Regions from separate parts of the Homo sapiens genome. Here region 2 is linked to region 1. Evidence: fine-mapped expression QTL. A gene starts in region 1. The other region holds a variant in brackets. All regions are shown on one strand. Distances are between the middles of the regions.

Region 1 (15,120 bases):
GAGCTAAAATCCACACTATAACAAAAATATTTCAGCTTGCGGTTCCCACCGCCCTGTTTCACTGATTCAAATTTTAAGCACAAGTGATCACATGGAATGAAGTGAAGTAAAGCAAGTTCTCCTCGTTTGTCTTTATAGTCATAGTGCTACCACGGTTCACTTCAAACCTGCTGTTTACATGCAGGAGGTTGCAGTGCCCATCAGCTGGATCAAACTGTGCCTGAAGCTAGCACTCTGCTTCTGAACCAAATAAACTTCTTGTGGCTGAACGAAGACGTGTTGGAACCAAGTGCATAGCTGGGAGCCCTTGGGATTAACTCCCATGTAAGACATGTTTGTTAAAAGATTAGGGATAAAAATGGAATTATACACATATAATTACAAGAAAGTTTTTTTTCTGGGAAGAGTATTTATCACTGACAGTGTTTAGAATTCCCGGTGCTCAGTTATAATAACAGAGCACCCTGACTTTCAGTCGGCTTGATCAGTCTTTTTTTTTTTTTTTCGAGACGGAGTTTCACTCTCGTTGCCCAGGCTGGAGTGCAACGGCGCGATCTCGGCTCACCACAACCTCCGCCTCCCGGGTTCAAGCGATTCTCCTGCCTCAGCCTCCCGTGTAGCTGGGATTACAGGCACACGCCACCACACCTGGCTAATTTTGTATTTTTAGTAGAGATGGGGTTTCCCCATGTTGGTCAGGCTGGTCTCGAACTCCCAACCTCAGGTGAGGCTTGATCACTCTTTTAGGTTCTCTGTGGCTAAGGTGACGCCCACACCCGAATGAAGTTCCCCTTCCCCAGCCTCAGGCATCCATGGCAGGAGGTGAAGTTGTGGGGATTGTTGATAATGGATGGAATGTGAACGAGTTGCATCAGGAAATGCAGGCTGAGCACAGTGGCTCCCGCCTGTAATCCCAGCCCTTTGAGAGGTCAATACAGGAGGATTGCTTGAGGCCAGGAGTTTGATTCCAGCCTGAGCAATATAGTGAAACCTTGTCTCTACAAAGAATTTTTTTTCTTTTTTTTCAGAGACAGGGTCTCGCTCTGTTATCTAGACTGGAGTGCAGTAGTGTGATCATAGCTCCCTGTAACCTCAAAACATTTTTTTTTTTGAGACAGAGTTTCACTCTTTTTGCCCAGGCTGGAGTGCAGTGGTGTGATCTCAGCTCACTGCAAGCTACACCTCCCAGGTTCAAGCGATTCTCCTGCCTCACCCTCCCAAGTAGCTGGGATTAAAAGTGCCTGCCACCACGCCCGGCTAATTTTTTGTATTTTTAGTAGAGACGGGGGTTCACCATGTTGGCCAGGATGATCTCAATCTCTTGACCTCATGATCCACCCGCCTTGGCCTCCCAAAGTGCTGGGATTACAGGCATGAGCCGCCACACCCGGCCTCAAAACATGTTTTTTTTTTAATTATACAGGAGGCGCACACCTGTAATACCAGCTATTTTGGAGGTTGAGGTGGAAAGATGACTTGAGCCCAGGAGGTTGAGGCTGCAGTGCGCTATGATTGCGCCAATGCACTCCAGCCTCGGCGACAGAGCAAGACCCCGTCACAACAACAAAAAATGAGAAAATGGACATTTATGGCAAACTACTTCTGCCCCGAGATTTCCTGTGGGTTCTGCGTGATTGGCTCTCAGGGTGTGGGCAGCTAAGGTTCCAAAGTGTACTGTTTAATCCTAGCACAGCACAAATGGCTTGCAGGAGATAAGGCAGAATCTCATCAGCACATCAGGGTAAGCACCCAGCTATCATGGGCTAGACCCATGGAGAAGCCGTGCTCTGGGAACCCCCCTCCTCCTTCACTAGAGGCAATGAAATGAAGCAGTAGCTCCTGCTCTGACCTTACTGCTCCCAGAGTCCTTGTGGGTACTAGTTCCAGTCTCAGACTAACAGCCAGAAGATCTGCCATTGAAGTTTCAGTTCCAAAACTAATGCGATGACTTTGGGTAAGTCATAAAACCTCAAGGGTCAGTTTCTTCATCTGTTAAATAAAATCGACATCTGCCCTGCCAGCCTCACAGGGTTGTTTTAAGAAGGAGATGGAATAACAGAAATGAAGGAGGGAGGCCGGCTGCTACCACAGGGCAGGGACTATCACCCACTGTGGCCTCCAACCTGATGGTGCCTCAGAGTCAGCTGGGGCTGCCCAAACACAAACCGCCGGGCTCCACCCCCAGGGATTCCCATGCTGAGGTCCGGGTTGAGGCCCAGAATTTCCATGTCTAATGAGTGCCCAGGTGGTGCTTTTGCTGCTGATCCAAGGACCACACTTTGAAAACCATGACTTAGGTTTAGGAGGACGGGCTCTGGAGGCAGGTTTGAGTCCTGGCTGTACCACTTCCTGTCTACATGTCTGAGGACAAGTGACTTAATCTTTACATTTCAGCTTTCTCAGCTATAGACAATATAATATTGAGAGTGCAAATTAGTTCAACCATTGCGGAAAGCAGCATAGTGATTCTGCAAAGAACTTAAAACAGAACTACCATGCAACCCAGCAATCCCATGACTGGGTATATACCCAGAGGAATCTAAATCGTTCTACCATAAAGACACATGCAGGTGTATGTTCACCACAACACTATTCATGATAGCAAAGATGTGGAATCAACATAAATGCCCATCCACAGTAGACTTGACAAAGCAAATGTGGTACATTTACATCGTGGAATACCATGAAGCCATAAAAAAGGAACGAGATCATGTCCTTTGCAGCACTATGGATAGAGGTGGAGGCAAGCTAAGGCAGAAACAGAAAACCAAACACCGCGTGTTCTCACTTATAAGTGGGAGCTCCACAGCGAGAACACAGGGATATTAGGAGGGGAACGGTGGGCAACGGGGCCTACCTGAGGGTGGAGGATGGGAGGAGGGAGAAGATCCGAAAAAATACCCATCGGGTACTAGGCTTATTCCTCAGTGATGAAATTATCTGTACACCCATCCCCCATGACATGAGTTTACTCATGAAACAAACCTGCACATGGACCCTCAAACCTAAAATAAAAGTTAACAAAAAATTTTCCTGACCAACCTCTTCAGGAAGAGGGGCAATCCTCGTGTCACAAGCAATGCCAATAAAGAACAGGAACGCCACCTTTTTCAACTCCTGAGAGATGAATCCAACGTCTGACCCTGCATTGCATGCACTCTCGCCCACGTCGGCTCTCATCCCCACACTCCTCGTTCCTGTCACCGGCCTATGCTGTAAACACCCTAGCAGTCACAATCAGTCACTTATCTGTCTTATGGGTCTATTATTTCATTCTCTGTCCTGCAACCGAAGCTCTGCGTTGTCTTACCCATGTTTAGAACAGCTCCGTTCAATGATGAGAGTCACACAAGCCATCTAAACTTTTCTGGTGGTCACATTAGAAAAGTAAAACAGCAAGAAATAGTTTTATTATTATTATTAAGATGGAGTCTCACTCTGTCACCCAGGCTGGAGTGCAGTGGGACAATCTCGGCTCACTGTAACCTACACCTCCCGGGTTCAAACGATTCTCCTGCCTCAGCCTCCCAAGTAGTTGGGATTACAGGCACTCACCACCACACCCGGCTGATTTTTGTATTTTTAGTAGAAATGGGGTTTCACCATGTTGGCCAGGCTCATCTCGAACTCCAGACCTCAGGTGATCCACCCGCCTCAGCCTCCCAAAGTGCTGGGGTTACAGGCATGAGCCACTGTGCCTAGCCACTAATTTTAAATGTATTTCTTTAACCCAATATATTCAAAATATTATCAGTTCAACCTGTAATCAATATACAAAATTAACAATGTGTTTTAATTTTTTTGGCAGTAATGAATGCCATGTTGGCTTTTATTATTTTTTTTTTCTAATTTTAAGTTCCAGGATACAAGTGCAGAACATGTAGGTGCTATATAGATAAACATGTGTCATGGTGGTTTGCTGCACCCATCAACCTGTTGTCTAGGTTTTAAGCCCTGCGTGCATTAGCTATTTGTCCTACTGCTCTGCCTCCCCTCGACCCCCACCCCTCTTAAAATTCTTTTTATTTTTCACACTGAGTCTTCAAAGTCCGGTGTGTATCATACAGCACATCTCAATAGCCACATGCAGGCAGGGCGCGGTGGCTCACGCCTCTAATCCCAACACTTTGGGAGGTCGAGGTGGGCATTGGACGATGCAGGTCTGGACAAGTGCCTGGTATATTGTGGGCACAATTCTTGAATGGACCCTGAGAAATAAGCAGAAATGGTTTTGTTATTCCTAATTTACAGAGTATAATAGATAATGGCAATAGTGACTTTTATTTGAGTTTATGTCATGTGTCAGGAATAGGCTATGCATACATTTATTATTTCATCTAAAATCTCATCCTCAAAACAAAAGCCTTTTGCAGTGGGAATTATCACTCCCATTTTTTTTTTTCAGTAGAGAAAATTAAGTTTCAAAGGAGCTAAGTGACTGAGACCACATATACACTCATCTTCTGATTTCTGATCCAGTGTTTGCTCAGGATAAGAAATGTCCTATATTTCTATGAGCCAGAGATTAAGATAAAAAAAGATTTTCAGGAGTAACCAGTCAATGAAAAGTCAAAATAAATAGTTTTGGCAGCCGGGCGTGGTGGCTCATGCCTGTAATTCCAACACTTTGGGAGGCCGAGGTGGGCAAATCACTTGAGGTCAGGAGTTCAAGACCAGCCTCACCAACATGGTGAAAACTTGTCTCTAAAAATACAAAAATCAGCTGGGCGTGGTGGCGCATGCCTGTAATCCCAGCTACTCGGGAGGCTGAGGCAGGAGAATCGCTTGAACCCAGGAGGCAGAGGTTGCAGTGAGCCAAGATCATGCCACTGCACTCTAGCCTGGGCGTTGGAGTAGGACCCGGAAAAAAAAGAAAAGAAAATAAAGAAAGAAGAAAAGGAAAGAAAAGAAAGAAACAAGAAAAGAAAGAAAGAAAGGAGAAAGAAAAGAGAACAAAGGAAGAAAAGACGAAAGAAGGAAAGAAGAAGGAAGGAAGGAAGGAAGGAAGGAAGGAAGGAAGGAAGGAAGGAAGAAGGAAGAGAGAGGGTTTTGGCACTGTGGAAAGTCATGTGGATGATCCTGCAAGCGTCCTCAGGTAATTCCAACCTAGGACTTCTCAGGGAAGATGAGTCCTTGTGATACAGGACCAGCCAGTGGGCACAGAAAAGCAAGCCCTTGGTAGGTCAACCCTCAGATATGCTGACGAGGTGGGGGCAGCTGTCAGGTCATCCTGAGAGCCTTCCCGGGCATCTCTGGGCTTCCTCAGATATCTACACAAGGGTAGGATGATCAGTCATAAATGGACTTTAGGGACAGCTGTGTGTGTCTTTTTATTTTAAAATAAGAATCCGTCTTGAAGTGCAATAGGTAGGAATGAGGAATGAAAGCTATGGCCAATTTAAATTAAAATTAGGAAAGCTGAAATGTTTAAAATTGATGTTCTTTGGCCAGGCACAGTGGCTAATGCCTGTAATCCTAGCACTTTGGGAGGCTGAGGCAGGCGGATCACTTGAGGTCAGGAGTTCGCAACCAGCCGGGCCAACATGGTGAAACTCTGTTTCTACTAAAAATACATAAAAATTAGCCAGGCGTGATGGCGGGCGCCTGTAATCCCAGCTACTTGGGAGGCTGAGGCAGGAGAAATGCTTGAACCCGGGAGGTGGAGGTTGCAGTGAGCCCCAATCGTGCATCGTGCCACTGCACTCCAGCCTGGGCGACACAGCAAGACTCTGTTTAAAAAAAAAAAAAAAAAAAAAAAAAGATGTTCTTCGATTTCACAGAGGAACACAACTTACCACGCCAATGTACGCGTCGCTTTTGCCTGGGCCGTTCCTTCTTCCTAGAATGTCCTGCTTCTTTCTCTTTGTCTAACTCATGTGAATGAACTTTTTAAAAAATTAGTATCCTTCAAAACTGTATTTGCTCAGGCGTTCTGATGTGAGGCCCTCCTGACTCTCCAGGTGCGGGTGCTTCTCTGCTCTGTGTCTCTCACCTCCAACAGCTTGTTCTGCCTGCGCACTATTTGCTGATGTGTTATCTCCGGGGATTCTCGAATTTCTCACCTTCATCCCCAAGGCCTGACAAAATACATGGCAGGTGTGCAAAAGGCTTGTTAGAAGACCTTAAGAAAATTAAAGAAAAGTGGTTTAAAAATAATTCGAATAACAATGTTTGCCAATGGAGACTTTTTTTTTTTTTTTGAGACGGAATCACGCTCTGTCGCCCAGATGCAACCTCCACCTCTCGAGTTCGAGCGCCTCTCCTGCTTCAGCCTCCTGAGTAGCTGGGATTACAGGCGCAGGCGACCACGCCCGGCTAATTTTTGTATTTTTAGTAGAGACAGGGTTTCATCATATTGGCCAGGATGGTCTCGATCTCCTGACCTGGTGATCCACCCGCCTTGGCCTCCCAAAGTGCTGAGATTACAGGCGTAAGCCACCACGCCCCTCCAACCCATGAACACTTTTAAAATTACTTGATTTGCTTACAGAGCAAAAGGTCAAATGGGGAGAATTCTAAAAGTTACCTTCTCAACTCAGTTTTCTCCCGGGTCGTGGTGCTTGAGGCACTGGATATCCCCTGGTTAAACACCCACGTGCAGTGGAGCAGGGAGGGGACGCGCCCCTTCGGGGGTGGGCGCCCAAGGCAAGGGGAGGAATGCGGCTTCCACGGCCTCCCCTCTCGCCCTCCTTTGTGCTTATTCTAATTCATGAATTCTAACATCTTTCTGCCCACTAAAAAATGTGCATTCATTCATCTGGCCACAGCCCTTACTGTAGATCCGCATCCCTGGAGCTCTCGAGGAGCCGCGGTTACCGCACGTGGGTGCCGGGCGCCAGGGGGTTCAAGGGCTTCCCGCGGTGACCCGAGCACGCCGGGGCGTGGCCCCCGAACTGCGGCCTGGGGGCGGGGAGAGAAGGGGCCCAACATGGTCCATCTCGACCTTCCTCTGCCGGGCCCAGGGCTTCAGCCCCGCTCCCATAGGCCCCGCCCCATCCCAGACCTCGCCCGCCTTCGGGATCTCAGCCCTGGCTCCGCTTCTTCAAGTACCGACAGGAAGTTGACGAGTTCGGGCTCGTCAGGGGCCGAGCTCCGGGCTCCGCCCTACGACACCGCCCCTCCCTAGGCCCCGGCCCTCATCAGGACTCCGCCCAGACGTGCGTCATCTTCCCGCGCCGGTGACGGAAGTGCGGTGTTGAGCGCCGGCGGCTCGCGCCCACGCTGGGCCGGGAGTCGAAATGCTTCCCGGTGCCGGGAGTGAGCGATGAGCTGGCTTCTGTTCCTGGCCCACAGAGTCGCCTTGGCCGCCTTGCCCTGCCGCCGCGGCTCTCGCGGGTTCGGGATGTTCTATGCCGTGAGGAGGGGCCGCAAGACCGGGGTCTTTCTGACCTGGTGAGTGGCCCGCCCGCCGAGGCGCCTCCCTGCCGGCATCGGGGTCGAGGGAGGCCGGAGCCCGGCTAACCCCGGCGGCGGGAGCCTGGCGGTCCGAGTCTGTGCCGCGCGCTGTGGCTGTGGGTGGTCGGGGGACCGCCTCGTTTTCCTGCTCGGCCGGCGGGGTTCCAGGAGGCTCATGGCCTGGGACTGGAACGCACCGAAGACTTGTTTGAAATATCAGAAACGTCGCGTAAAGGTTAGGGGTGGCCTAATAAACCCTGTGTTTAATCCTCCATCTTTGTTGCAGTTAAAGTGCAACAAAAAGTGACACGTAATCAGAACGAACCCCCGTTACCAGAAGACTTTCCGTACCAGCTAAATTGGGATTGGAACTCAGTACCTAATCTTCCCTTTTAAAAAAGGCAAATTCTAATAAGCCAGTATTTGCAGTTGGATCCTTGTAACAACCCTTGGAGGTGAGAGGGATTATTCTCACTTTCAGGTATAGTTCTTGGGGTCAGGAAGTTCCCAGGGCATGTAACTGACAGAGAAAGGACTTGAGCCCAGCTGTTCTGACTGTACCACCAGAACTCTTCCCACTACAAGATACCAAAGTTCGTTACCTGTGTTTCCCCATGCACGGCAGCTACAGTATTGAGGAAGAAGCATCTCAGAAGTTGACCTTTTTGTTGTAAAGAAATGGTTAATATTTTTTTCAAAGACCGCAGTATTTTGTTATGCTTTGAGTTTGACGAAAGCCTTATGGTGCTGGTGTGCTGGCTGGCTGGCATACAGTAGAACACAGGTGTAGAGTCTGACGTGCAGGATAAAACTATAAGGTGCGACTCTGCCCTTTTCACGCAAAAATTGGTCCTCTATATCCAGTTTGCATCCTCAGTTTCAGCTAACCATAGATCAAAAATATTTGGAAAAAATTAAAATAGAATACAGTTTTAAAATACGCATAAAAAGACAATACAACTATATAGATTGTATTAGGTATTATAAACTAGAGATGATTTAAAGCATGCAAGAAGATGTGTGTGGGTTATTTGCAAATACACCATTTTATGCAAAGGACTTAAGCATCCTCTGATGTTGGTATCTGTGATGGGGTGGAGGACTTCCTGGAATCAGTCTCCCTCAGATACCAAGGGACAACTGTATTTCCAACCTTAAGAATCTCAATAAAAAAGGGGATAAGTTAGAGAAGGAAGAAGGAAATAACATTGCACATCTTTTCCAGGAATGAGTGCAGAGCACAGGTGGACCGGTTTCCTGCTGCCAGATTTAAGAAGTTTGCCACAGAGGATGAGGCCTGGGCCTTTGTCAGGAAATCTGCAAGCCCGGAAGTTTCAGAAGGTAGTCACCTCTCATATCAGTGTGACATTTTAACCTATTCAAAGGCTTTCATATGCCAGATGGCATTTGATCTATATAGCTACCCTCTAGGCATGTAGGGAACCTCGTGTGATTGTTTTCATTTTACAAATTAGGGAACAGACTGAAAGCAGTTACAAATAGTGGTTCATATTACTTACAGTATTAGGGATAAGCCAGGACTCAGCTCTCCTGTTCCATTCAGCCTTTTATGCCATAATTCCTTGTCTTTTTTTAAAAAAATACTTGTCCAGCCTGGCCAACATGATGAAACTCCATCTCTACTAAAATACAAAAATTAGCTGGGCATGGTGGCGCACACCTGTAATCCCAGCTACTCGGGAGGCTGAGGTGGGAGAATTGCTTGAGCCCGAGAAGTGGAGGCTACAGTGAGCCGAGATTGCACCACTGCACTCCAGCCTGGGTGACAGGGCAAGACTCGTCAAAAAAAAAAAAAAAAAACTTACATAGTTATTGGACTGGATGGGCTACAGTTTACAGGAATGAGTGTGGTTCTTTCCATGGCATGCCCCTTTGTGGTGTTGCCTTTTTATTGAGAACAGAGTCACACAATCTGAATTTCTTCTTTTTTTTTTTCCTTGAGACAGAGTCTCTGTTGCGCAGGCTGGAGTGCAGTGGCACAATCTTGGCTCACTGCAGTCTCTGCCTCCTGCGTTCAAGCGATTCTCCTGCTTCAGCTTCCGGAGTAGCTGGGATTACAGGTGCGTGCCACCACGCCCGGCTAATTTTTGTATTTTTTTTAGTAGAGATGGGATTTCACCATATTGGCCAGGCTGGTCTTAAACACCTGACCTCAAATGATTCACCTGCTTTGGCCTCCCAAAGTGTTAGGATTCCAGGCATGAGCCACCACGCCTGTCCAATTTCTTCCAATTTTATGTGTTATAGAAAGTACGGTTATTCAAAGTTTAAAGCCCAATATAAGATTAATTCCCAATATAATTGGAAGTTTAAAGCCCATTATGCAGACTCAGATGAGCAGGGTGACGACTTTAGAGCGCAAGATTTTAAAAATATTTCTGGATCTACACTGAGGAGGTGATCTTACGTGAATGTTACTTACAAACTTTTTACTATAGCAAATTAAGACTGAGCAGAGCATAGTTTTAATTACCTTATCTTGAACAGCCTCTCTAGAGGCCACTGAGATGCTTGAACCTGAACAACTGCTCCTTCGAATCATCGTAACAATCCTGGACAAAGCACAATTCAGAGCGAGGCAGGTTGTGTCCAGAATGGATCCCTGAAGAGTTAGTTTGCAAAGCAGGGTCGACCCTCACTCAGTGCATCTGCTTCACCCTCTCTCTCTTCAATAGCTTTTAAAGGAGATTCTGTTTGAGAATGAGGACACGTGAAAAAGGCTCATCGATGTGACAGTTCTTACTGCTTACTGCATGACAGCCAATAAGCTGAGAGACAAGGTGTTGGGGCAAGGAAGGCGACTTTTTTCCGAGAGCCAGCAAGTCAAGAAGATGGTGGACTAGTGTCCTGAAGAACCATCTTAAGTTAATAGAACTTGAGACTTCTTTTATGTTAAGGGAAGGGGAAAGAAAGGCGGAGGTGAGATCAGGAGGAGACCGATGAGCACAGACATCTGGATGGCAGCGAGGGTCCAAGGGGATTGTGAAACTTCTCTGTCCTTGGTCAGGCCATGATGCTCCTCCTATAAGTCTTCAACATAACATTGTTATTTGTGTGTACTCCCTCTTTATCTCCTTGGGGGTTAGTTTTGGGAACGGACCACTGTCATCCTTGCTTTAAACTATAAATTCTTCCCATAGTTCACTCGGCCTATACGATACCACTATGGGGATGTTAAGGGAGAATGGAGGCAGTAATGCTGAGCCGCCTCCTCGCTGTTACAGCTGTTCATTTTTCTACCCAGATGGAAAAATCAGTTTGAGACAGAAAGCAGGTTTGAAAATATGGCTTTTTCCTTCTTTGCTGGGTTCCTGATACTTCCTTTTCTTAATTTTCCTTTTCAGTTTTCCTTTTCACAAATTTTTTGTTTTTAACCAATCAGTAATTTATTTGTATCTCAAGTCTTCCAATATAAGTATGTTTCTGTTTTTATTAAGTACTCTGACTCTTAAAGCAAGCTAGTTCTTTTGAATCTACTTCTTTAAACTTTAGAGACCTCCTAGTCAGTGACTTACGTCTATAAATTGAGATTTAGTGCCTTTAATGATTCAGATCTGTATCAAAAAGTCTTAGCCCCTTTTACAGTTTTTTGTTTTTTAACATTACATTTATCCTTATTTTAGAATTATTGAGCTATTTACTGGTTCTTATGGTTTATATAAGCTGATTTAAGGTTAATTTACTTAAAAACCACAATTTTGTGAAGTAAAACTTAACTGACAAGTGTGTTTTTTTCCTCCAAGTCTTATCTGTTCTGTAAAGTGTCCATCTCTGTTATAGTAAGTAAAACCAGTGTTTATATCCGTGTTAAGGTTCTACAAAATGACACTTTAACCTGGACCACAGTATCTGCATTTACTTCAGTAGAGTACCTAGAGGAACGTTTTGGAGATGAGTGTGTGAAAACAAAATGTGGCAGTGGAAACGCCAGCTGTTGCTGACGTCGTGCTGATCACAGTCAAGTGTTGCCCGGCGCCCTTAGGGTTCCGAGAGGTGTGGGTTGAGAAGCTCCACTAGGCTGGACATTTTCTTGTTCCTTTCTAGTAGGCGTTCTGTGATGTTCGTGCCCCATTTCTCCATCCCTGGTTTAGGAGTTGAGAGCTGGAGGTGAATCCTGTAGTGTTGGGTTAGGGTTGTTAGTTTGCAGGTAGTTGGTTGCTCCTGTGTCCTTATTTTCACTCCATGTAAGGAAAAGTCGTTTGAGATCATCTAGCCCAGGGCCTCGTTTTACAGAAGCCCAGAGGGTTTAATTCAGTTGACGGAGTTCGCAGCTGATAAAAGGTATAGCACAAATTGAAACTGGTTTTTTGAGTCCTGGTCTAATTTAGCTGTTCTACTTCAGCTGCCATAGTATTACCCAGTGAGTGAGATATGGGCCCTTCCCAGATAACCCTGAGGTGGTATTAAGAATCTCTTTGGGGCCGGGCGCAGCGGCTCACGCCTGTAATCCCAGCACTGTGGGAGGTCAGGGCAGTGGATCACAAGGTCAGGAGTTCAAGACCAGCCTGGCCAAAATGGTGAAACCCCCATCTCTACTAAAAATACAAAAAAATTAGCTGGGTGTGGTGGTGGGTGCCTGTAATCCCAGCTACTTGGGAGGCTGTGGCAGAGAACTGCTTGAACCAGGGAGGTGGAAGTTGCAGTGAGCCACGATCGCGCCACTGTACTCCAGCTTGGGCACAGAGCAAGACTCTGTCTCAAAAAAAAAAAACTATTTGGGATTAACCTTGAGGTCCCCCTGAAGAAAAACTTCGTTGCAGAAGAAAAACTTTGTTGCAAAAGAAAAGCTGCAAGAGTACTGACCCTGAAGGGACCCAGTTGCTTCCTTTTAGTTTCTGGTTTCTGTTTCCTTTTTTTTTTTGAGACAGAGTCTCACTCTCTCGCCCAGGCTGGAGTGCAGTGGCGCGATCTCCGCTCACTGTAAGCTCCACCTCCTGGGTTCACACCATTCTCCTGCCTCAGCCTCCTGAGTAGCTGGGATTACAGGTGCCCGCCATCACGCCTGGCTAATTTTTGTATTTTTAGTAGAGACAGGGTTTCACCATGTTGACCAGGCTGGTCTTGAACTCCTGAGCTCAAATGATCTGCCCGCCTCGGCTTCCCAGCCCTGTTTTCCTTTCTTAATATGTCCCATTATCTGTTTATTCAAGCTAGATGAACCTGCACCCTCTGAGCCCTCCTAGGGGTTCTTAACTTCGTGTCCATGTAGTTGTATTTGAGGCAGGGAGAGGCTGAACCATGGACACAACTCATCTTTTTTTAGATTTATCTATTTTTAAGCAAAGGGGTCTCACTATGTTGGCCGGGTTGGATTCAAACCCGGGCTCAAGCGATACTCGTATGTCAGCCTCCCGAGTAGCTGGAACTATAGGCACACACCACTGCGCCCAGCAACACCACTGATGTTATATACACAATTTTGGGCCATGTTTTTCCTGGAGAAAGAGCCCCTTGAGATGCTGTGGAGGGGATTGAGATGCTGTGGAGGGGGTGGAGGTGGTGTGGAGGGGAGGGGGTGGTGGTGGTGTGGAGGGGAGGGGGTGGTGGTGGTGTGGAGGGGAGGGGGTGGAGGTGGTGTGGAGGGGGTGGAGGTGGTGTGGAGGGGGTGGAGATGGCGTGGAGGGGGTGGAGATGGCGTGGAGGGGGTCATTCCCTCGTTTCCCTCGTTGTAGGGCCACATAGAGAGGGTGTTTTTAAGTCTGATTTAATGATACTAAATAATTTACTGAATGTCTTCATTCTCTAGCATTTCGTGTTATGTTCATTGTTTCCAGCTCACGAGTGGACTCTTGTCTTTCAGGGCATGAAAATCAACATGGACAAGAATCGGAGGCGAAAGCCAGCAAGCGACTCCGTGAGCCACTGGATGGAGATGGACATGAAAGCGCAGAGCCGTATGCAAAGCACATGAAGCCGAGCGTGGAGCCGGCGCCTCCAGTTAGCAGAGACACGTTTTCCTACATGGGTACATCTTCCTTGGGTTTTCAGATTTTAATACCACAGTCAGGAAAATGTTATGTGTAAAAGGTGTTTCCCACTTGATGGGGGGAGTTTGAGCTGGTGTTTATCATCTTCATTCTTATGTGTAAAGATTATTTAGAAATCACTAAGGCCATTATTTATAATCAAGTAGTGCAGAATTAAACTTTTGGATGTTCTTAGGAAAACCCTTACATGTAAATGAACAACTGTAATCTTTTGAAATACTAGTATTCCCTGTGCATGCAGTACTTAACGTTAAGATGAAATGCGAAGACTCCAGCTTTTTCAAATAACACCTCACACGCAGCTGCTTGTTATAATTGATTAGCACCAGCATTTTAACCTTTCATATTCAATCTTTGGAAAACAAGAGATTCTATTTTATCCTGAGAAGCAAGGTAGTAGTGAACTTTTCTGCTACCTTTCACTCCAGGAATCAGTTATGTATTTAGTGACTCACAGAATAGAATTCTCCTTTGTGTCTTTTACACATATGAGCAGAAAGTAGAAATAAGCATTAAAAAATATAAATCAGTATATTTATAGGTTCTAATTTAATTCAAGGGAAACCAGTAGAAAATGTTTTGCCAAGCTGTATTATTTATAGATATGTTTTGCAGTTACGTAAAAAAAGATCAAACAAGTATTCTTTATTTGGTGATTTACTAGTAGGAATTGAAGCAAAGATTTGTGGAGTTGCAGGGAGATGAGCCGTTTCCAGACACTGACCATTGCTGGAGGCTTGGTGGCCTGGAACATGGCGGATAGCAGGTGCTGGCTCCTGAGACAGTTCAGTGGCTGGGTGGGAAGCTTGTAGTCATGCTGATACAGTTAAGTTCCAGCTGAACGGAGGAGCCCTGCCCAACACCCACACTCCCCTTGGCTCTCAGCCCCGCTCCTGTGAGGAGCACATCCCCATCTTTGCCCCTTCGCCACTGCTGAGCTCAGTCTGCCGTCCTTCGGACAAGTACTTCCACTTCCTGCGCGTACCACCTCTATTTGCCCTCTCGCCCAGCTCTTTTAACACTGTGCAACCTGACCTCTGATCCCACCACACTACTGAAGTGTCCTGGTCACCAGTGGCCTGAGAATGCCCCCGTCAGTCCTTTTTTACCTTGTTCTTTACAGCCTTTGTGTGTCAATCATACCCTCTATCTAGAGGGAAAGAAGCAAAGACGGGAACCACACTTAACTAGCAGCAAATATGCCAGGGAAGAAATTAGACCAGCACTGGTCAGGAGACTGGGCCCTCTGGCAGGCAGGGTCACCGTCATGCTGAGGCGCTGCTCGTCTCTGGAGGATGGCTCCCTGGGAGTGAAGGTGACCCTGCCGTGGAGACAGCGCCATTGTCCTCTGAACCCACAGTGTGGGATGTGAACAGTAGTTTTTACTGCAGCAGGCTCTAGTTTTACAAGGTGATTGCCTTCACCCCGAACTTGCCTGGCCTGCAAGATCAAAATGTAAGTGGATTCCAAGCATAAATGTTAGGTGCCCCCTTGTAAGGAATGGAGCATGTTTTCCTAGAGAGAAAACGTCTGCAGCGTTGTAAAATACCCTCTCGGTTTAAAATGCTAAGTCGACCTAGTGGATTTTTGAGGTGAATTTCAGTTTTTAGTAAGGTCAGCCCAGCAGCATGTACTTCCTTTTCCCACAGGAGACTTCGTCGTCGTCTACACTGATGGCTGCTGCTCCAGTAATGGGCGTAGAAGGCCGCGAGCAGGA
Region 2 (15,120 bases), 29 kb after region 1:
CTCAAGCTTGGTCCCAGAGGGGAGGGGACTCGGAGCGGTGGACGCAAGCTTGGTCCGGGAAGGTCTTTGTCAAGGCCCATTTGTTTTATTTTACAGGGAGGAAACTGCAGCCGAGTCAGCTCCTCTGACTCTAGGCCGACCGTTCTTCCCTGTATGACATGTGACTCACCAGATAAAGCCACACACGTCATTCTTTTAAAATTCTCTACTCTGTGAGTGCAATGAAATTAGTATTTTTCCACAAGTCCTTTCCTTTCTCTAATGTGTAAAGTAAGAGGCAGAGAGATCCTGCTCTAGTCTCTGGGCCCTCCCTCTGCTGGCAATGTTCTTTTTCTGTTTTAACCATCTGAGCAGCACACGACCGCCCTGTCTTGGGGCAGTGACGTGTCTGTGGTCAGTACAGGACCTGGTGCTGGCTCTCTCGTGGCCGGGACCGACAGTGCTCACGCCTGGACCCCGCTGTGTGTCCTACCCTGTTCAGTTTGCCAGCACAGGCTTTTGGTTCCATTTTCAACACATCTCTAGTCTGATCAGCCCTAACCTCCACTGCAGGCTGCGTCCTTCCCTGCCTGTACTAGTGCAGAGCTCCTGGTGGGTTCGCACCTTCTCCCCCAGCTCCTCCCTCTCCAGGTAGCAGCCAGGATGGCACTTTCAAACCATGTCAGATCACGTCGCTGCTGTGCTCAGGACCCTCCCGTGACTTCCTTGTCCCTCTCAGAATAAAATGCAAATTCCTCCCCCACACCCACAGGTGTCCCCCTGTCCCCACCCCACACCTCACCTGCACTTGCCAACTCCAGCCATGCGGCTCTTACTGCCGTTCCTCAATGTGCTGGGAACCTCCTGCCTCAGGGGCTTTGCTGTTCCACTGCCTGGGCTTTACTCAGATGGAACTTTCTTTGTAAAAAATTGATTTCTAAAATTATGGTAAAATATACATAACATAAAGTTAACATCTTAACCTTTTTTTTTTTTTTTTTTAGACAGGATAGTCTCACTCTGTCACGCAGGCTGGAGTGCAGTGGTGCAATCACAGCTCACTGCAGCCTCTGCCTCCTGGGTTCAAGTGATTCTCTTGCCTCAGCCTCCCAAGTAGCTGGGGACTAGAGGCACACACCACCACGCCTGGCTTTTTAATTTTTTTTTTTATTTTTAGTAGAGACAGGGTTTTGCCATGTTGGTCAGGCTGGTCTCGAACTCCTGATCTCAGGTGAACCGCCTGCCTCACCGTCCCCAAGTGCTGGGCTTACAGGTGTGAACCACTGCGGCCAGCCCATCTTAGCCGTTTTTAAGTGTGCAGTTCAGTGGCATTAGGTACACTCACACTGCTGTACAACCATCAGCACCCTCCATCTCCAGAACTTCTCATCTTCCCAGACTGAAGCTCTGTTCGTGTTGGACACGGACTCCCCAGCCCCTGGCAGCACTGTTCTGCTTTCCATCTCTATGAATGTGACTCCTCTAGGGACCCCGTATAAATGGAATCATGCAGGATTTGGCCTTTTGGGCCTGGCTTATTTCACTGACCCTAATGTCCTCAAGGTTCCTCCACATGGTAGCAGGTGTGAGAATTCCCTTCCTTCTAAGGCTGAAGAATGCTCCATTGTGTGGATGTGGCACAGGATTTTTTCTGTGCCACTTCACCAGCCGGAGACCTCCATGGCCGCTGGCGCCCCTGCCTGGCCTCACTCGGCCCAAGGATCACTGCTGGTGATACTCTGCACATTCGGCCCAGTGGGCTGTGCTCGGCTTGCACCCCGGCCCAGATCCCACGCTTGCCACAGGATCCGCGCTCAGCCGGCGGTTGGGCCGGGCATGCCGCAACCCGCTTCTGCCTTGGGCACCGGTGTCTGGATGAGGGGAACGTGGTGGCACCCAAAACTCAGAGACACCAGGAACCGCAGAGCCCCAAGGGTGTCACAGCTCAACCGTTCCCACCACCTGTGACTTGGCGAGCAGGGCGTGCTACAGCCCTGGTTCAGGGAGTCTGATGTCTGGGCTCTTGGGAAGCACCATAGCTCTAGTTCATTCCTGCCGCCCGCAACTTCAGCAAACGGGTGTGTGGCAGCCAGCAGTTTCTTCTCCTCCACTGCTCAGCAAGCAGGAGGGAGGGTTACAGTGTTACAGCCTTTTTTCACACCCACTGTTCTGCAGGTCCCAAGTTCTTGTCCCACATCCAGAAGAATAAGGTTATGCAGACAACCAGAGAGTGAGCAGGGCAGAAAAAAACTTCTATTGCATGATGGAACAGCTCCCAGCGTTGAGGGGACCTGAGAGTGGGCAGCCACTACCTGAAGGTGAGTAGTCTCTACCCAAAGGTGGTAGTCCCTGCTGTGTGGCTGAGTCCAGGGTTTTTATGGGCTCAGAAAGGGGGAGTGTGTGCTGATTGGCCCATGGGCGGGCCTAGAAAAAAATCACCATTCGATTGGCTAAAAGGTCGTGGACTTAACCTGGAACTGGCAGCTTGGTTTTCCAGCTTCAGGCTATCTTTGGCTTGAAGGTCGGGCTTCACTGGGGACCTGCCCCAGTCTGCCTAGGAATCTGTCTTCTGCTACTATCAGAGGGACCACGCTTCGCTTATCCAGTCGTCATTCACGGACCCTGCATTGTCTCTGCCTCTTGGGCTTTGTGAAGAATGCTGCTGTGAACAGGGGAGTGCCCCTGCCTGTTTGGGTCCCTGCTTTCCATTTCTTTGGGAGGTACGTGGAGAGGAGATTGCGGGGTCATGTGGTCATTCTGTTTGGCTCTTGGAGGAGCAGGCATCCTGTTTTCCACAGCAGCTCTGCCATCAAATGGCACTTTCTTAGTGACACCTCCCGTATCTCTCCCCATAAATGTATCTCTCCCCATAAACATTGCAACTCCTGGCTCACCTTCCTTCTCCTGTAACTTGTCACTGTGGAACTCTCAGGTGTGCCTGAGCCGACTCGTAGCAGCCCAGGAGGGCCAGCAGTGAGGCCCCTTCCCCACTCCGTGGTCAGTGCCTTCACACAGGGAGTTTGGAGGTGGCTGTAGTGGGAGGACTCACACCGCAGAAATCAGCCAGTGCTGCAGGTCAGGGGCCGCCATCCCCCAGAGCTGCTGTGAGACATCGACCAGCACATCAGTGGGCTGCTTTCCGCTGGTTTTATTTGCATGTATTTTGGTCTGTTTCCCTACCTAGAAAATAAACTCCCTGTGGCAGAAGTTTTATCTCTCTGCTCCCTTCTTGGTTCCCAGCTCTTGGAACAGAACCAGACTTCTGGCCGGGGCTCAGTCAGTGCTTGCAAGATGTTTGTTGGCACCAGGCTGTGCCAGGAGAGGTGAGCTCTGAGAGGGCAGTGTGAGGAAGGAGCAAGCCTCGCGGCTCTCTTTGGAGAAAAGGCCCGGGTGACATTTTATGCGTCCTTTCCCTTCCCCTGAGGCAGCACGATCGGCTTCTCTGTGGGCACAGAGGCCTGGGTTCTCGCCTCGCTCTGCCCGAAGGGTGAGCAGCTCCATCAGTCCTGTCTGCGCGGGAGAGCGCCTCCATGCCCCTTAGTGCGGTGCCTCCCAGCCTTTATAATGTCAGGGTACGGCTAGAAAATATGATTTCTACAGCACATCAGGGCCAAATGGAGGGCGTTGTTGGGTGCATCTCTTTGGGCCTCAGTGAACACTTTCACTAAATTCTTTACATGCAATCATGCACTGCATAGCAACATTTCTGTCAATGATGCACTGCATATTCAACAGGGGCCTCGTCAGATGATGATACCGTGTTTTTGCTGTAACTTTCCTATGCTTAGATACACAAATCCTTACCATTGTGTGACAGTTGCCTGCAGGATTCAGAGCAGTGACCTGCTGTACAGGTTTATAGCCCAGAAGCCATAGACTGTGCCACGTGGCCCGGGTGTGTAGTGGGCTGTACCATCTAGGGGTGTGAAATCACCTAAGGACACCTTCCTTAGAACCTATCCCAGTCAAGGGATGCGAGGCTGAGTAACGGGGCCCCTTGGGAGTTCAGCACTCAGCATGTTTCAGTGAGTGACTGAAATAATGAACGTTCTGATCGGGCCCTCTCTGGCTGGCACCTGTGAACCACTCGCTTTGTACCCATTATTTCTTGTTCCCACAGCATCATTATAAACTGCTGATCTACTGTTTCTTTGTCAAACGGGAGGAGATAACATGAGGGTCATGAGAAATGTTTGCAGACGGAGTGAATGCCTTGAAAGTGCTGCGACCAGGTGCTGACACCCGGAGGTCTGGCTGCTCAAAGTGTTAGCTGACACGGAAGACACACGGACTTTCCCTCCATTCCCCAAAACTCCCCTTCCCTGACTCGTCAGCTGCATAAAAACCCTCTCCTTATCTCTTTGTCAAGGGGATTTGAGAAATCTTGCTGTCTTGTCTTCTTGCTTTGGCCAAATGGAATAAACCTTTCTCTGTCTCCAGACACCTATGTCGCAGTGTTCGGCCTCAGCTATACGGCAGGTACATGAACCTGGTATTTGGGCTTCTACAACAATTGTACTTATAGCACAAATAAAGTACAAAGTGTTAGGGAAGACCAAAGACCATAGGTAGAAAACTTGGATACAACTTCCAAATAAACACTCTTCAAAACATTTAATGAGCAGCTTCTGGAAACGTAACTTTTTCCTATCAGGTTTATAATTAAAATAGCTGTAGACTTCCCACCCACAGCTTTTTAATGATGATCTCTTGAAATTATTTTTGGCCTCACGTTGTCATCCAGGCTGGAGTGCAGTGGAGCAATCATAGCTCACTGCAGCCTTGAACTCCTGGGCTCAAGCAATCCTCCCACCTCAGCCTCTTGGGTAGCTGGAACTACAGGTGTGTACCACCACGCCTAGCTAATTTTTAAATTTTTTGTAAAGGCAGGGTCTCTCTATGTTGCCCAGGCTGGTCCTAACACCTGGGCTCACGCAATCATGGGGAGCTAGAAAATCCTGTCCTTGGAAGAGTGTCCCTGAGTTTTGCACGGACTCAAAAGGAACAGAGCCGCTGTATCCAAATTTCTGCAAATGCTGGAAGCACAGGGTGGCAGCAGAGTTTTAGGGCATATTAAGTTTGTTCCAACTTAATTTGCTTTTTAATGCAATTATTAAGGCTGTTAGAAACTGTTCTTGTTTATACGGAAAAGCCACTGTTTTGTAACAATACCTGCTTACTCTCCTACTGTGTCTTAACACTTTTCCTGTTAATTTCCTTGAGTTTTCCAGGTATGCAATCCCATCATCTGCTAATAATAATACTCTCATTCCTTCTTCCCCATCCTACTACTAATACTCTCATTCCTTCTTCCCCCTCCTACTAATAATAATACTCTCATTCCTTCTTCCCCATCCTACTAATAATAATACTCTCATTCCTTCTTCCTCATACTACTACTAATACTCTCATTCCTTCTTCCCCCCTACTAATAATAATACTCTCATTCCTTCTTCCCCATCCTACTAATAATAATACTCTCATTCCTTCTTCCTACTACTACTAATACTCTCATTCCTTCTTCCCTCCTACTAATAATACTCTCATTCCTTCTTCCTACTACTACTAATACTCTCATTCCTTCTTCCCTCCTGCTAATAATAATACTCTCATTCCTTCTTCCCCATCCTACTAATAATAATACTCTCATTCCTTCTTCCTCATACTACTACTAATACTCTCATTCCTTCTTCCCTCCTACTAATAATAATACTCTCATTCCTTCTTCCCCATCCTACTAATAATAATACTCTCATTCCTTCTTCCTCATACTACTAATACTCTCATTCCTTCTTCCCCCCTACTAATAATAATACTCTCATTCCTTCTTCCCCCTACTAATAATACTCTCATTCCTTCTTCCCCGTCCTACTAATAATAAAACTCTCATTCTTTCTTCCCCATACTACTACTACTAATACTCTCATTCCTTCTTCCCCGTACTACTACTACTAATACTCTCATTCCTTCTTCCCCCTCCTACTAATAATAATACTCTCATTCCTTCTTCCCCATCCTACTAATAATAATACTCTCATTCCTTCTTCCCCATACTACTACTAATACTCTCATTCCTTCTCCCCCCCACTAATAATAATACTCTCATTCCTTCTTCCCCATCCTACTAATAATAAAACTCTCATTCTTTCTTCCCCATACTACTACTACTAATACTCTCATTCCTTCTTCCCCGTAGTACTACTACTAATACTCTCATTCCTTCTTCCCCACACTGTGTCGCTTACACAGTCTCACATCTCATGGCCTCATCTAGCACTCCCTCAACATTTTCCATTCGGGTGATAAATTGGTAGTGAGTGCCTCCAAGCTAAGCACCATCAGTTAGATGTGTTTCTGGCCTTTAGGAAAAGGGATTCCTTGCATTTCAGCAGAAAATGGTGCCTGCCTAAGCCCCGCTGTGGGCCGGGGTCATTTGCAGTGTGGACCACCCAGTCCAGGGTGGGGGCCCTTCCTGTGGCTCACTGCAATGGTGGCAACGGGGCCGGGCCAGGGCACAGCAGTGGACTGACAGGGCTGGAGGGAGAGAATGGGTGCCCGTTCAGAGATCGCTGGCGTTGTGTCCCAGGGCACCATACACAGAGGAGTGCAGGCAGGTGAGATGGGAGACAGAGGGCAGGGGCAGTGAAGGGCGATGCTTTGCCCTGGGTGATCCTGAGGCTGGCAGGGTGGCCAGTGCCGCCAGGCCCAGAGCTTTGCCCCGCGTGAGGCACACAGAATGGGGGCCTTTTGCGCACATCACGAGACTGCTTCAGAGTTTCAGGTGTCTTGAAATGTCTGTCAGTAGGGACATGCGGGTCCCACTGGAGATTTTAGTACATATTTCTTCCTTCCACAATTTGTACAGTAACAGTCATGGCAAACAACTACATACATGTGGTGGTGGTGTGGTGGTTGGTGTTGGCCCAGGCTGGAGTGCAGCGGCGCGATCACCGCGCTCCGCGGCCTGGACCTCCTGGGCTGGGGCGATCCTCCCACCTCTGCCTCCTGAGCGGCTGGGACCACAGGTTCAAGCTACAAATCCAGCTTCTGCATTTTAAATTCAGAAAATTAGTTCCTTCAGGCTAAATTAAAGAAGATAAGCCAAGTTTCGTGTGCATATGTATTTTGTGGGATATTCACTTGTTCCAGCACCGTTCGTTGTTGAAGCTAACGTGATGTTAAAACTACGTATTTTTAAATAAGTATCGATTCACAGGCAGGTGCAGAAAAAGTGCAAGGAGGCCCTGGGTCTCCTTCACACACTTCCCCCCAGGACAGTGTCTTGCACAGGTATAGATAGGTGCGTTTTAAAATTTATCTTAAGTAAATAATAAAAGTGGATAAAACATGAACAAGAATGTTTTTGAAACATTATTTATAAAAGTCACAAACAGCAAAAATCTAAAAAGCAACAATAGAAGTGCATTTACATAAACGACAGCTCCGTGTTGCAGTGGAGTCCTGCGGGTCATTAGGAAGTGATGTCCACATGTGGCCATGTGGCTCTTGGCTCTCAACGTGTTAGAAGTCAACATATGGCCGGGCGAGTTTCCCCGACAAGGCCGTTTAGAGCTGCGCCCGGGAAGGTGGGCACGAGGGAGGTGGCACAGGGGCGGGGGCTCGCAGGCTCCCCAGGGGCGTGCACTGCAGTCTCCAGGAGGGCGACGCGCAGAGCTCCCCAGTGTGGTGAATGCCCCTGCACGTGTGGGCAGAGTGCAGGGCATGCGCACAAAGGAAGGGTCACGGAGCAGCGCGCAGGCCTCAGCGGGGATCTTAGTGTGATGAGAGGCCAGGGTCCAGGCGTCACTCTGCGGGCGGGCGGCGTTTCTCAGTGTGACACACCCCCTGAGGTGGCCCGTGAGGTGGAGCAGCCAGGCCCGGCTTTGGCATCGGGCTGCTGTGCCCTACACCCGAGAGAGCCGCAGGCAGCCCGGCTGCAGAAGCGTTCACTCTCGGTCCTCCCCAGAGGCTCAAGATGAGGGTGGGATCCCCGCGGGCTGAGGAGCGCTGGGCCAGGAGCTCAGCAGACGGTTCCGGACTCTGCGCCGCCGCCCACCAGCCTCCCACCGCCTCGGCCCACAAGCTCCCCAGACGCAGACGGCTCCTCCAGCACCTGTGCAGACGCAAGGGCGCGCGCACACACACACACACACACAACACACCATATACAACACGCCACACACACCACACACACCACACAATTCACCACACACCAGACA[A/C]CACACACCATACACAACACACAATTCGCCACACACCACACACCATACACACCACACAACACATACCACACAGCACACCACACACAACACACACCACACACCACACCACACACAACACACACCACAGACAACACACACATAACACACCATACACAACACACACCAAACCCATCACACACCACACAACACACACAGCACACATACTACACACAACAGACCACACACCATAGACAACACAAACACAACACACCATACACACCACACACCACACACAGCACATACACCACAGCACACACACCACACACACCATAGACAACACACACAACACATACCACACACACCACATACAACACACACCACACACCATACACACATCACACACACCACACATACACCATACCATAAACACACCACACAACATACCATACATACACCACACACACCACACATCACACCCTACACTACAGATACCACATACACACACCATACTACACATATACATCACACTATACCACACACCCCACACAACACACTACACACCACAGACACAGTACACCACACCCATGTCACACCACACACGCCATACACCACACTTACCACACAACACACACAACACACCATACCATACACACTCCACCATACACACACCACACACATTCAACACACAACATACTATACACATACCACGTACACCAGGCATTACACACACCAAACACACACCACAGTATACACACACATCACACACACCACAGACACATCACACACACCACACAACATACACATACCACACACATTCAACACACAACATACTATACACATACCATATACAACAGGCATTACACCACACACACCACAGACACACATCACACACAGCACACAACATACACCATACCATATGCACACACCACTGCCCTCACACAACACACCATACACACACCACACACCAGCAACCCCCCTTCCGCGCACACAGCACTGCGCTCCCACCCTGTGCCACGCTCTCTGCCCCACCCTGTGTGATTTTTCTCTTTTGAGGGGGTGGTAGGGGGGCGCCCTGCAGACTGGGGGAAGAGTGCAGGCTGGGTGGGGGGGGGGGCGCGCCTCTGAGCCCTGCGCCCTCCCTGTGTCCCGGGACGCCAAGCTCCGGAGTCAGGGTGTGTGGAGCCCGTGCTGCCGGCCTGCTGGTGGTGACTCGGCCAAGGAGCGTGGAGCCACCTCTCCGACTCCTAAAGCGACTCGAGTCGTTCGCCCTTCTTGGGTTTTTGCTTCTCTGCCTTGGCCTTCCCAGCCCCCAACATTGGTGTTCACCGAAGAATGTTCTATGGAACATTTTCGGAGTCAGTAGATGCCTCTGCCCTAAGAGCCAACAGTTGTGTTACCTGAAACAGTGTCTTCATCGCAAGCCTTCCCACTGCCCAGGACGGAGCTAGGACCGGGTTTTCTCACATTTTTTTTTTTAACCTCAAAACCCTTTTTGCTATTCACCTCACAACTTAGGTGACATGAGACACATTTTGGGAAACGTTTTGGGGGCAGTGTGACCTTGAAGATGATGACAAATGCAGAATGAGATACCCTGGAATGGACATGTGGTTAGATTTCATCCTGGGGGCACGGAGGTCTGGCATAATTCACTGAAATGCTGTAAACCAGCCTGCATTTTCTCCCAGGAAAAAAACCTCCATCTTTACTTCAAAGAAGATGTATGAAGATCAAGAGAAATGTTTTCCTTTTAATTAGTTTCAACCACATTTTGCTGACTGTGTCCTCCAGGCAGCTGTTTCTGAATATGCTGCTTCTTTCTGAAGAAATCCATACCCACACTCCCTTTTTTCAATTAAGAAAATTTACATGCACAGATGGGTTGCTTGTTGATTTATAGAGAACACAACTTTTTTTATTATTATTATTATCATTTTTTGAGATGGAGTCGTGGTCTATCACCCAGGCTGGAGTGAAATGACATGATCTCGGCTCACTGCAACCTCTGCCTCCCAGGTTCAAGCGATTCTCCTGCCTCAGCCTCCCGAGTAGCTGGGATTACAGGTGCCCACCACCATTCCCAGCTCATTTTTGTATTTTTAGTAGAGACGGGGTTTCACCATGTTGGCCAGGCTGATCTCAAACTCCTGACCTCAGGTGATCCATGTGCCTCAGCCTCTTAAAGTGTTGGCATTACAGGCGTGAGCCACGGCGCCCGGCCTATAGATAACATAACTTTTTTAAAATTGAAAATTTTCAAAAAATTTGAAATACACAAGAGAATGGTTTGTTGACCATCCAAATACCTCTGTCACCTACCTTCAATAATTATCAACACTTGCTACCCTAATTGGGAACGGTATTCTGGAAGTGGTTTTTTTTCATGTGCAGTACTAGGCGTGACTCTGATACAGGAATCTATTACAGTCTCCTGTCATTTTAGGTATCATCTGTGAACCTGCCTGCCTTCCTTGACTTGTAGGGTCTGGGACAGTCTCACTGGTTGTCATTACACAGGTCTTAGTGTTAACCCCAGGCTTATTTATAGAGACACCCTTGCTTTCACTGCAAACATACTATATTCTTAGCTGTCAGCTGTCAACTGCTCCTGAAACAACCCTTTTTACCCAGGTGCTCCTCCGCAGCTTCTAGCCATCCACCCGTCTTCCATTATTTATCATACCTCTGGTCCCTTACTGTTTTCTCTATTTCCCAGCAAGCCCTTCAGGCTGTTCCATTTAGAAGACATTAAGTCAGTTTTGGCCCTCCCAGGAAGAGTGGTGTAGACTCAGCCTCCTCCACAGAATGGTGTCTGCCCTGGCAGCACTCAGACTGGGTTCAACAGGGAACAGCCAGGAGGGTATGAGACCTGAAGTCGTGGCATTGAGAGCAGCTTTGCTCGTCTCTTTCACTTGCAAGCTGTTGGAAACACTCACCAGTAGGACACCTTGGCAGCTTAGTATTTGTCATGGACGTCTGGCCTGTCGGTCTGCCCTTCCACCGCCCCTCTCCCTGACCAGTCGTGGGGCTGAGGGGCTGCCAGGCAGAGCACCTCCCAGACTGGGCACCCGGCCAGGCCCAGGGTAGTGGAGTCTGCACCTCGGGCTCCCAGAGAGATCTAAAGGGCTTGCAGTCTGGAATCTCCCATGAGACTGGATATCCCATCATTACATAACAGAGCTCTTTTGCCTTGAATTGCAAGCAAGTGCAGTCTTAGAGCTACTGGCGGCTGTTTTCTGACCCATGCAGAGAGCTCTTTTTAGTAGCTGAGTATTCAGACAAGGCACAGAGAAAAGAGGGTTGAGATAGGGAGGAGAGAGAGAAAGAGAGAAGGAGAGACAGAGGGAGGAAGAGAGACAGGAGGGAGAAAAGGGGGCAGAAAGAGGGAGAGAAGAGAAGAAAAGCTAAGTGAAGAGAGAGACACACACATATGGAGAAGATAGAGACAAAGAGACATAGACAGAGCTGTTAACATACTTTCAGCCCTGAATCCTGCCATGCCCAAGGTGCGTTCTGCTCTAACCCTTCTCATTTATGTGATCCAACATATCTTTGTTCCCGTTTGTTTGCTTAGGTAACTTGGACTTTTCTTTTTTTGAGATGGAGTCTCACTCTGTCGCCCAGGCTGGAGTGCAGTGGCGCAATCTTGGCTCACTGCAACCTTCACCTCCCGGGTTCAAGTGACTCTCCTGCCTCAGCCTCTTGAATAGCTGGGATTACAGGTGTGCACCACCATACCCAGGGTTTCACCATGTTGGTCAGGCTGGTCTCGAACTCCTGACCTTGCGATCTGCCCGCCTCGGCCTCCCAAAGTGCTGGGATTACAGGCATGAGCCACCGCGCCTGGCCAACTTGTTGGATTTCTGTCACCTGCAACCTAAAGTACCCTGAACAAAAAAGATGAGAGCTGTGGTTCTTACAGTATGGAGATGTTTGAAGTCAAAACTATTTGTCTCACAATGCCAGGATGACATGTACCTTCTTCTCTGTGTTGAGCACTGCCCTCATGGTGCAAAGTCAGTGATGGGCTCAGCTCTCCGTGCCCAAGAGAGCCACGACATGGTACACACTGTACCAGCAGTCATTGTGTTTTTCACACACCTGCACTGGAACAACAGAAACAAAAACAAACCCCCGCTTCTCTTAAGAATGTCTTTAATGAAGCTGTAAAAATGACTGGTTTTATTAAATTTTGACCTTTGAGTAGACATCTTTCTAACATTCTCTGTGACAAATTGGGAAGTACACAGGAAGCATTTCTGCTGAATAGCTGAGTATGACTCAGGGAAATATTTTGGTTTTCCCAAGCTCAAAGTTCCTCCCCTGTAATGCAACCCACTGAAGATGCAGGTATCATCCCTTTTCAAGTTCCCTTGGTGGGGACTGGCGTTCAGCAACCTGTGCAAAACTGCAGACACTGTGGCCCCTGCTACCGCTGTTGCTCCTGAGTAATAGGCTGTGTTTTATCTCTGAGCCGATAATCTCTTGACTTCTGTTAACACCCATGAATCTGGGACAGGCTAATTTCTTAGCTTGCAGAGTGTAAACATCTCCGACTCTTGGCAGTTCTTTCCACAGGCCAGAAGTAAAGTACACTTGATCATCAGATAAAAATTAACTATTATTAATAGTGCATGGCAGGCATTGGCAAACTCCAGGCTATGAGCCAGATTCAGTCTGCTGCCTGTTTTTGTATGTTCCATGAACTAAGAATGGTTTTTATGCTGTAATGTGGTTGTTGTATAAATACCTACATACTATCCTCAATTTTGACTCGATCTACAAAACCTAAACGATTTACTATCTGGCCTTTTCCAGAGAAAACTTGCTGCCCGTCTATAGAGCCTTATCTGCGTTCCACATTCCAGCAGTTTGGATCTTCCTGTTCTTCTGTGGCTCTACTGTATCCCTATATGGTTTGTTAACGCGCCCCTGGGTTGGGAGCATATCACAAAGCCCAGACGGATAACAGTCTGCGCAGGTCTGCGGCGATGGCGACCATCTGTCTTTCAAAACATCTAAACAGATTCTTCCCAAGTGTCTTACATCGGGGTGATAAATTCTGGTCATGAAACATATTTTTGGGCTGCTGCTGGCTATTCTTCTGGAAGAGACAGTTCAAGTTCCAAAGATTCCTCTTCAAAGGAGGAATCCCATGGGCCGGCAATGTCCGTATGAAGTAATGAGTGCTGTTCTCATCTGATTCTGCCCGCTTGAACTCCTGCCAGCAGCAAGTGCTGGGCTGCCTTGGCAATTCCTCAGAGCCTCTCCATCATCTTGCTTTTCTAAAGTATGTTTTTTATGGCATAAAACTGTTTCCCCCATACCTAATAGGAAAAAAGGAACAGCTACTGAAGACAGAGGCTGACAAATGGTAGATACATAATGGTGTGGGGCTGCCGCAGCCTGGGGGTGGGAGGGGAACCGGAAGCACTCTTCCAATTTCAAGATGAAGTTTATTCTACGATGGGATGAAACCCACATCATTACTTCTTGTACTCGATTTTAGCAGTTATGTGTACAGGCTGTTGGGCTGGGCTCCCCAAGCTCAAATACCAGCTTTGTCACTTCTGGTTGTGTGACCATAAGTTACTTCACCTGTTTGTGTCCTAGTTGTCTCATTTGTTTTTAAGTGATATGGGGTCTTGCTGTGTTGCCCAGACTGGTCTCAAACTCCTGGGCTCAAGCAGTCCTCCTGCCTCAGCCTCCCATGTCTCATCTTTAAAATGTGGATAATAAGTCATACCAACTTCACAGTGTAATCATGAGGAGTAAAAATAATAATATGCATCAAATCTTTAAAATGTTACCCAGCACACACTACTATTATTATTGTCACAATTACTATTTTCTTTTTAATAAAAATATTTTTTGTAGAGATGGGGTCTTGCTGTATTGCCCAGGCTGATCTGGAACTCCTGGCCTCAAGTGATCCTCCCACCTTGGCCTCCCAAAGTGTTGGGATTACAGGCATGAGCCACAGCACCCAGCCTAGTACTACTATTTTCTAGTAAATGAGAAGCATTAGATATGAGATAGGAGTGCAGTTACAGTAAGACAGTAAAGACTATTTGGAGTGTTCCTCATCCTATCCCTTCATTCAACAAACTTTTAAAAAAATTGTCTACTATGTACCAAGCACTGAAGGACTAATAAGACACATTCTCTGACCTCAAGGTATATGCGGCACTCAGCAATACAGACAAATCCATTCATTCAGCAAGTACCAAACAACACATGGAGTGGTCAGTCCTTTGGTGAAAAGACATCAAGTCAACATGTCCTTACAAACTCTAAGCTAGCACCATGGCAGTGTTTCACACGGAGAGCCCATCTAGTTGTCTAGGGAGTGGTCAGAGAAGGCTTCTCTACGAAAGGGATAGTTAAGCTGAAATTAGAATTTTGTATAGGAGAAAAGTACTTGGAGGAAGGAAGAGCATTTTCAGTGGAAAAACTGCATGGGTGAAGGGCCCAAAGGAAGGAGGAGCATATGACTCAAATACACTGAAAGGCCAAAGTATCTGGAGGACAGAGAACAAGAAAGGAGGGCGATGGGCTGTGAGGTGGTCAGGCCGAGGCTATAGAAAGGAGGGTTGAAGCAGAAAAGGGGCTTGACTGGATTCCATGTTTTTTTGTTTGTTTGTTTTTTGAGACAGAGTCTTGCTCTGTCACCCAGGCTACAGTGCAGTGGTACAATCTCAACTCACTGCAACTTCAGACTCCCAGGCTCAAGCAATCCTCCTGTCTCAGCCTGCAGAGTAGCTGGGACTAGCGGTGCAAACCACCACGGCCAGCTAATTTTTGTACTTTTAGTAGAGACGGGGTTTCACCATGTTGCCTCGGCTGGTCAAGTGATCTACCCTCTTTGGGCTCCCGAAGTGCTGGAATTACAGGCGTGAGCCACAGTGCCTGGCATCTGGCTCCTATTTTTAAAAGGTCACTC

The links. PIP is the estimated chance that this variant, and not a neighbour inherited with it, causes the effect. A credible set is the group of variants that fine-mapping cannot tell apart.
Region 2: its variant is the best candidate, but not a certain one, in a credible set for the expression of RNASEH1 in whole blood (TOPMed, PIP 0.50).

Annotation. Positions count from the first base shown.
Region 1 is chr2:3,550,405-3,565,524 of GRCh38, reverse strand. It overlaps RNASEH1 (ribonuclease H1), which reads left to right and starts at 7,192. Exons shown (of 8, transcript NM_002936.6): 1 at 7,192-7,392; 2 at 8,621-8,736; 3 at 13,217-13,381; 4 at 15,053-15,120. The coding sequence starts at 7,265. It overlaps RNASEH1-DT (RNASEH1 divergent transcript), which reads right to left and starts at 7,139. Exons shown (of 3, transcript NR_038429.1): 1 at 6,527-7,139; 2 at 5,796-6,077; 3 at 3,775-4,208. RefSeq lists enhancers at 836-885, 936-985, 4,529-5,426, 7,091-7,340 and silencers at 6,741-7,060, 7,431-7,530.
Region 2 is chr2:3,521,290-3,536,409 of GRCh38, reverse strand. It overlaps LOC124907725 (a long non-coding RNA gene), which reads right to left. Exons shown (of 2, transcript XR_007086195.1): 2 at 12,316-13,504. It also overlaps a transcript of RNASEH1 not described here. Among named protein-coding and RNA genes, the nearest start is that of ADI1, 9.3 kb to the right of the region's middle. RefSeq lists enhancers at 117-411, 1-518, 7,745-7,804. The variant A/C (reference allele first, on the strand shown) is at 8,199.